Linked DNA regions of Homo sapiens. The protein of the gene in region 1 purifies or fractionates together with the protein of each later gene. This does not show direct contact. Each region holds a gene or a part of one and is shown on either strand. Other genes may lie near its edges. The genes, in order: TMEM178A and GSTCD.

What was found.
Region 2: the proteins of TMEM178A (region 1) and GSTCD purify together in Homo sapiens (affinity purification with mass spectrometry; one large-scale study listed by BioGRID and IntAct). This does not show direct contact.

Annotation. Positions count from the first base shown.
Region 1 is NC_000002.12:39,664,578-39,668,967, forward strand, and holds the start of TMEM178A (transmembrane protein 178A isoform 1 precursor), read left to right. Parts: upstream 1-1,339; 5' UTR 1,340-1,397; coding exon 1,398-1,797; exon of another isoform or gene 1,798-4,390. UniProt on the Homo sapiens protein: Acts as a negative regulator of osteoclast differentiation in basal and inflammatory conditions by regulating TNFSF11-induced Ca (2+) fluxes, thereby controlling the induction of NFATC1.
Region 2 is NC_000004.12:105,715,230-105,719,041, reverse strand, and holds part of GSTCD (glutathione S-transferase C-terminal domain-containing protein), read right to left. Parts: intron 1,450-3,812; 5' UTR 1,429-1,449; coding exon 1,003-1,428; intron 1-1,002.

The DNA.
Region 1 (4,390 bases):
ATTGAGTGGCACGAGTGTATTGCACCTCTGTGGTATAGACTGACTATACCGCACAAGTGATTAACTCTTAGCACCCCGGGTCCTAGCGTTTCCTCATTTTAGAAAATGTGAATCTGCCTGCCATTCTTGGAAGTAACCTCTGTGACTGGAAGATGGAAGAACTGCCCCAGGCTCAGGTGTTGACTTTGGTGTGTAGCATTGCTTTGCTGTTGACCCCCACCCCCCAGCCCAAGAAGGAAACCTGCACAGGAGAAAATCATTACTTTGATTTATTACTGGGGGCTTGCTGTATGCAAAGGCAATAATCACCTCATGGAGCAGGTGCCACTGCCAGGGTTCATTGATTCCAGGCTCTTCTAGAAATTCCAGGAGGCCAGTCAGTCTGGCGGGAGATGGACGTAGTCAACGAAAAAAGAAGTCCATCTCATAGCAGGTTGAAATGAAGTGGGAGAAAAATCTCTGGTCATCGTTCTATCGCTCCACTGACACTCGGTGTCTTTTTCTTTCAGAAGAGGGGCTTGAGCAGAGAGAATGCTTAGAGGCTAAGCGATGGGCAAGTGAGAGGGAAAGAGCCGCGACAGATAGAGCTGGCTGCCTAGGGGTCTCAGAGGCTTCATCCTGCAGGCGGCAGGCGGCAGGACAAAGGGACCTTCGGACTCCAGATCAAGATTCCAAGGAGTTAAACGCTACCACGCAGCCCGACCTGGATGGGATTTGCTCCTGGGTACAAAACGGGACACTGATCAAAATCAACTTGGACAAGTGACAAGAGTGAGTCTTATGTCGGTGGATGTCTTTTAAGGTCGTTGGAGGGAAGAGGACGGGAGGGGTGTGCCGAGGGGTAGGTGGAGAGAGGCACCGAGTCCAGAGCCGGGATATAAATGCACCAGGAGCCGGGGAGCAGAGGAGCAAATGAGTGGGGGAAAGTGTGAGAGGAAGAGTTGGAGAAAAGTCGGGGGAAAGTAGGGACAGGGTTAAGGGGAGAGAGGAGGATGAGGGCGGCGAGGAGAGATTAAAAGGGGAAGGGGGGTCGCTGGAGAGGAGGGCGGACTGTGGATCGGAGGTAGGGAGAGGGGCGAGAGGAGTGCGCGGGGTGGGGGGCGCCGGGGCGAGGAGAGGGGGCTGGGGAAGAGGAGGGGGGCAAGAAAGCGAGAGCGGCGCGGGGGAGGGCTAGGAGCCCGGGGGCCGGGCCGGGGGCGGGCGGGCGGTGGGAGGCGAGATCAGGCCAGGGGAGAGGGAGCGAGCCGGGCCGGGCTCGCAGGGCGAGGAGGCCGTAGGAGGGAGGTGGGGGGCAGGTGGGGGGAAGAGGGAGGGAGCGGGCGGAGAGCTGGGGCCAAGTGCATTGTGTCTGGCGGCGGCGCGCGAGCCCACCGGCGGCTGCGGCGGGGCGGGAAGCCATGGAGCCGCGGGCGCTCGTCACGGCGCTCAGCCTCGGCCTCAGCCTGTGCTCCCTGGGGCTGCTCGTCACGGCCATCTTCACCGACCACTGGTACGAGACCGACCCCCGGCGCCACAAGGAGAGCTGCGAGCGCAGCCGCGCGGGCGCCGACCCCCCGGACCAGAAGAACCGCCTGATGCCGCTGTCGCACCTGCCGCTGCGGGACTCGCCCCCGCTGGGGCGCCGGCTGCTCCCGGGCGGCCCGGGGCGCGCCGACCCCGAGTCCTGGCGCTCGCTCCTGGGGCTCGGCGGGCTGGACGCCGAGTGCGGCCGGCCCCTCTTCGCCACCTACTCGGGCCTCTGGAGGAAGTGCTACTTCCTGGGCATCGACCGGGACATCGACACCCTCATCCTGAAAGGTGAGCGGCGGGCGCACCCCGCGTCCCCGGCGCCCGCGCGTGGAGCGCAGCCCGCGGCTTCCCAGGGGCGCGCCGGTCCCCGCAGCCCCCTCCCAGCCGCGGCCCCGCGCCTGGGCATTCTTGCATCCTTCCCGCCGCCTCCAGTCTTTATCTCTTCCCTTTCTTTCCCCACTGCCTCCCTTCTTCTCCCTCTCCTTGACTCTCTTCTTTCGTCCACATCCTGCGCGTCCTTTCAAGTCCGTGCCGCACCTCCCGCCTCTGTCTCCTTCTTTCCTGCCTTCGCCTCCCATTCCCCGGTTCTCTCTCTCTCCCCGTCCTTCTCTGCCTTTGTACACCTGCCTGACATGTGTGTCTTTTCTTGACGCTGCTCCCCGTGAGGGGGACTAACCGTCAAAGACTCGACTTTTCTCACCCGGGCTCCTTCCTTCAAGTTGTGCTCCTTTTGGAAATACCGTTTGGAAGAAAAGTGGTGCCGACCTCCGAAGAGAGGGAAGGGGCTTTGCCTGTATTGTGCGGATGCTGGTGTCAGACGGAACTGATGTGGTCATCCCAGCCTGGCAGGGCTGATGGGCAGCGAAGGAGGCCCCGGAACCTTCCTTCATACCCCTGAAGTGCAGGGTGTGTGTGGATTAGACTTCAGAGACCAATCGTTGGCTGGTGGAGGCTGGTGGAGGCTGCCCGAGGCAGATAGGACACCTGCTTTCCAACCTTCCTGAGGACCCCATACCCCCACCCTCCTCGCTGTCCAGGCACTGAGGAGAGAAAATGTCCTCGCCCTTTAAACTAGAGCTTTCCAGATTTGGGCACTCACTCTCTGCTTATCACTCTGTCTTCTGTTCGTGGTACCTTGTCAGGTTGTTTTTGTTGTTTGTTTTGTTTGGCACTGAGTTGCAGAGCATCAATTTGTTCTTCTGAAATCTGTGCAACACCTGTCTTCTGTGAATGCTATCAGATAGTTTGATTTTTTTTTTTTTTTTGGTAATCCCATTCACGTAAAAATATTCAGTGTGACAACTTGTGAAGCTTCCTTTAACTTTCAGAACTTGACTCAATGTATTTTTTTCCCCTTTGAGATTAAAAAAAAAAATCAACATCTCTTCTCTTGGACTCATGATGCCAAAAAAGAAAAAGTCCAAAATCAGTACATTTTAATATTTAGTAGCCATGTAGGAAAACAAACAGACGGATTTGTGTTGAGTTACAGCCTGGAATGGAATGACATAGAAAAGAGGGGGTTAATAATGTGTTGGCCTTCAGAGTCTTGCTAGTTGGCGGATTCTTCATTTCTCAAACATGTCAACTTCCTCCTTCCCATGGCTAACTCAGCTGGGGACTGCCATCCAAAATCTGTCTGCGTGTGGAAGGACTCCAGCACTTTTAGGGGAACCAGATACAGTAAAATCTTTTGGGAAGTGCACCATTTTCTTTTCTCTCCTAACTTGCATCCAAATCTGATTTCTCCTCATGAAGATGCTGCATAATTAATTCTGATAGTAGCATAGTACATGAACAAACTGTAAAAGCTGAATGTGGAGGCTCAGTTATGGAGTGCTCATTTAGGCAAGGCAATTTTGAAAGCTAAGCAGTGTAGTCTGTCTTTGGAAATGACAGAACTGCATTTCCTTACACTTTCTATGCTTAGAGTATTTGATTGCATGTAAATTGGATATAGAGCAATGCCTGAAACAGCAGGGCAGAGTCAAACCTACAGTAGAAGAGGGGACCCCCACAGGATATTGCACAATGCCTCTGCAAATGCCCTGGCTAACTGAGGTGCCAGTTCCAGGGCAGTCCAGGGTCAAATAATAGAGGTGGAAGGACTTTAGAGGTCATTGAAGTTGAACATCTACTGGTTGTTCAAATTCCCTTCTACAATCTTTCTGACAAATGGTTGTCTAGCCCAGTACTTCCGTAAGACGGAACTCATATACTCGTTAAAAGAACTAGATTTTCCCAGTCACGAATGCCTATTTTTAGATGAAAACAATCTCAGCTTTATAATATTGATGGTGTTTAGCTAATCTTTTGTGTAGAACACTGAAGAGTTCTAGGTTGTGAACAGAAGATATGGGCCCCATTGCTGGCTCTGTTGCTAAATTGCAGTGTGTTCTCCAAGTATCAAGACCTTCTTCGCCTTCGGTTTCCTTGTCTGTGGTATTATTAGGAGGGATGACTATTCTTTAGAGAAATTTCTAGTTCACATATCTGTCATTGTTATAATTAATAACAATGTAAATTTAGCTTCTTGCAAAGTTAATGAGCCAACGCTATTAAGCAATGAGGAGTTTGGAGGAAAGAACAGGCATTGGTAGATTATAGGATCATAATTTGTTGTTTGGGAGATGTCCAGAAATGCCTTGTAATGTTGCTACTAACCAACCTTGGGCTAGTTACATAATTCTTCTAGATCTCAGTTTCATCATCTGTGAAATGTATGGGTGACAAGAGCAGCTTTAAAATTCTGAGTCTATGAATAATTTGAGAAAAGAAAATGTCACCAACATTTTCCTGGCTCAAAGATGATTTTGGCACCCATATTAGGCAAACATTATCACCTTTGTTTTGGCATCTGACATTAGTGGCTGTGGTATGA
Region 2 (3,812 bases), on another chromosome or scaffold:
ACAAGAAATGAAAAGATTTTTTAATTTCAATATAACTTTAGAAAAAATAACTGTCTTATTGGGAAATAAGTTTTGAGCTCAATCATCCCTGGGCTAGGCTTTTATGTTGTATCAGGAGACACATCACAGTGCTTCAGAAGTAAAAACATTAAGCAAAAGAAGTTTAGCATTCCTGTATTCCCCTTACTAAATAAATCATTACTTCCCAAAGCCTTTACAATATACCTCCCCTGTCCTACCCTCCTCCTAGCCCCCACAATAAGCAGGGCTTCCAAAGCATTGCTATTTGAGCTCCTATTTATATGTAAACATTCCATTTAAAAATCAACATAACTAAAATAAAGAAAAAAGAGTTATTTTCTAAAAATGTCTCCAAACTTTATAAATTAAGACTTAAATTCTTATTTTTCAATACTGCACTGAAATATTGACACACGTAAAGGGTATATTAGCCCATTTGCATTGCTGTAAAGGAATAGGTGAGGCTGAGTAATTTATAAAGGAAAGAGGTTTATTTGGCTCATGGTTCTGCAGGCTATATAAGAAGCATCTGCTTCTGATCAGGACCTCAGGAAGCTTTTAGTCATGGTAGAAGGCAAAGGGAGTGCAGGCATGTCACATGGGGAGAGAGGGTGCAAGAGAGAGCAAGGAAGAGGTACCAGGCGCTTTTCAACAGCTAGATCTCTCATGAACTAATAGAGCAAGAACTCACTCATTACCCCAGTGAGAGCACCAAGCCATTTACGAGGCATCTGCCCCCACGACCCAAACACCTCCTACCAGGTCCCACCTCCAACAACATTGGGGATCACATTTCAACATGAAATTTGGAGGGGATAAATATTCAAACTATATCAAAGGGCTACTTTATTTCATTGGTTACTGGGGTTTTTTAAAATAAATAAACTTTTATTCCTAATAGGAAGTTAAAATATTAAATGGTCAGGTAATTATGTTATCACTGTGTAGCTTCAAATAACAGAAAAAAGACATTATACTTACTTCAGCACAGGCTTTCAAGCAAGTCTTTTTAAAGCCCAGAAGTTCCAAAAGTTCCTTCTTTAAGGGGTCTGCTTCATAGGATTTCTGGATTATGTGTCTCAATACAACAGCAAGTCCTGCTCTACAAAAATTGTCTGATCGTTCTACTACTGCAGGCAAACAGCAATTTTGGACTATTGGTGGGAGCTCCTGCCTTGAAATAATCTGTATTTCAACATCCTGGATCAGGTCATCTCTTAGTAGTGAACTATCTCTACTCACCTCTTTGGTGACAACTAAGCAAATTTTAAAGATTTTACAGTCACAGTAAGATAACAGAAATAAAGTTACAGATGTATGAAGAGGAAAGATGCATCCTTCTGTTTGGTGAGAAAAGTCCAGGTACAGGTATTCTTCTTCTGTAAGACTTTTCTTTATGGCTTTCATTTTCTTCTTTCATTGGGTCACCTAAAGTATAAATTGAAGTGATTATGGTCTTAGAATATAATCATTTAGAAGCTAAAATAAAAGATGAATGTTTCAAAAGCCTGTTCTAGAAATCAGTAAAAATTTGCAGTAGATAATAATGCTATAAGGTTTGTTTCTGAAGACTGACTAAATGACTTCCAAAAGAAAAAAATTCCACCCTGTGCAATTAACTAGCATTAGAGGAAATATTACACCCAGCTCCTTTAAAATGAGCAAACCCCAGTGCTTTGCAATAGAGCCCTCCCAATCAAGTATTTTGGGGTCTCACTATATGTGAGAACAGGAGATAAATAGAAGGGGAAATAAATTAACCAAAAATACTGAGAGCTGTCTGGGGATAATATCCTTGAGAAGTTTTGACAGTGCTGGTCCTTCCATACTGCTTCTTTTTTACGACCCTACAAAATAATAGGGAGGGGATATTCGTTCTTTCAGGAGAAGTGGATTCTCCTCAAGTAAGTGATAGCTGCTGAGTGCTGAATCATAATATAAAAATATTTAAATTTCCCCATAACATGGATACTGATAGCTATCTTAAAGTTAACCTGTCCAAAATCCAGTTCCTTATTCTCTCCCACCCCTCAAACCTGCTCCTTATGTGTCTTCCCATCTCAGGTTACACCATTCTTTTCCTTCACACCCCCATAACCAAACCCTCCAAGGTCTTCCCACCCTCCTTAGAGAAAAGCCAAAGTTTCTGCAACAGCCTACAAAAATCTCCTTGATCTAATCCTCCTTTATGTCTCAGAGTTTGTCTCATTAACTTTCTTCATTGCTCACTGCTCCAGCCAAAGTAGATTGTTATTCCTCTAAAACAGCCATCTCCAACATTCTTGGCACCACGGACCAGTTTCATGAAAGACAGTTTTTCCATGGGAGGTTGGTGGGGGGATGGGGATGGTTTCCAGATGAAACTGTTTCACCTCAGATCATCAGGCATTAGATTCTCATAAGGAGAGTGCAACCTAGATCCCTCCTGCGTGCAGTTAAGAGGGTTGGAGCTCCTATGAGAATCTGATGCCGCTGCTGATCTGACAGGAGGCGCCATTCAGGCAGTAATGCTGGCTCACCTGCCACTCACCTCCCACTTTGAGGTGGGGTTCCTAACAGGCCACAGATGGATACTAGTCCTGGGCCCAGGGGTTGGGGACCCTTGCTAAAACACTAGGTACATTCTCACATCAGGGCCTTTGCATTTGGTGTTTCCAGTACCTAGAACACTTCCTCACTTCCTTCAGGTATTTATTTATTCAATGGCAACTTCTTACTGAGATCCTCCCTGACTACTCAATTTAAATCACAAACCCCAATCCCCACGCTCCCTGAAAAAAACCTTTCTATTTCCATCTATGTTTTTTCTTCCTAGCGCTTATTGCTATGGTGATATACTATATGTTATTATTTGTCTCCTCTAACTAGAATGTTCCATGAGTAAAAATTTTTTGTTCACTGCTTTATAGGTTTATTATATATATAAGCAAGCAGTATTTGACAAATGAAAGCAGAGATAAATATACATACTGGTTAAAGGTGCAAACACACACAGTCTTGAGGTCAGATTCTTCATGGCTATTTTCAAGTCATATTCCTTAAGGTTTTTATCAATTGTCCTGTCTTTTTATGTTTATACATTTCCCGGGTCAAAAATTCCTAATGTTCTAATACATAAATTACAATTCCAAAACTGACACTAGATGGCACTCTTTAAAAGTATTCACCATGGAAATACGTACCAGAAACATGACATATTAGAAGGAAAATTACTTTAAAAGCTGTTAAAAAGTACACATGCACCTCTTGTCTTTTAAGTGTATTCAAAATGTTAGTGTACACTTAATTTTAGAAAACCTTCATCATACTAAATTTTCTTTAATATTTTAAATCCCTTTTTTAAAAAAATCTGAAACAAGACCTAAACACTTTAAGCTTCTTAGTTCTTCATTTTTTAAAACTAAGGAACTTGTAATCCATTATAAAAAATAAATATAGTCAGTAAAGTATTATCTAAGTTTCTTAATAATACAAATAATCACTACTGCTTTATTTTATATTTCTTCTATTAAAATATAACAGATATATACCATGATTTGTTACTTCTTAAAAGATTATCTGGGGGAAAATTATTTTATATACTGTAAAAGCAACAACTTTTTAACTTACAGATGCCATTTTCTCCCTGAGCTTATTTTTTAAAAATTTTTGTCACTGAGAGATAATTTTAAAACAAAAAGGTATTTATTAAAGATCAAAGTTCAAAGAGTTTTTTTATAAAGCTGAATAGAGCTCTGGAAATATTTTCATTATTAATATAACACCTTTATGCTATAAGTCCTTAAAAACAG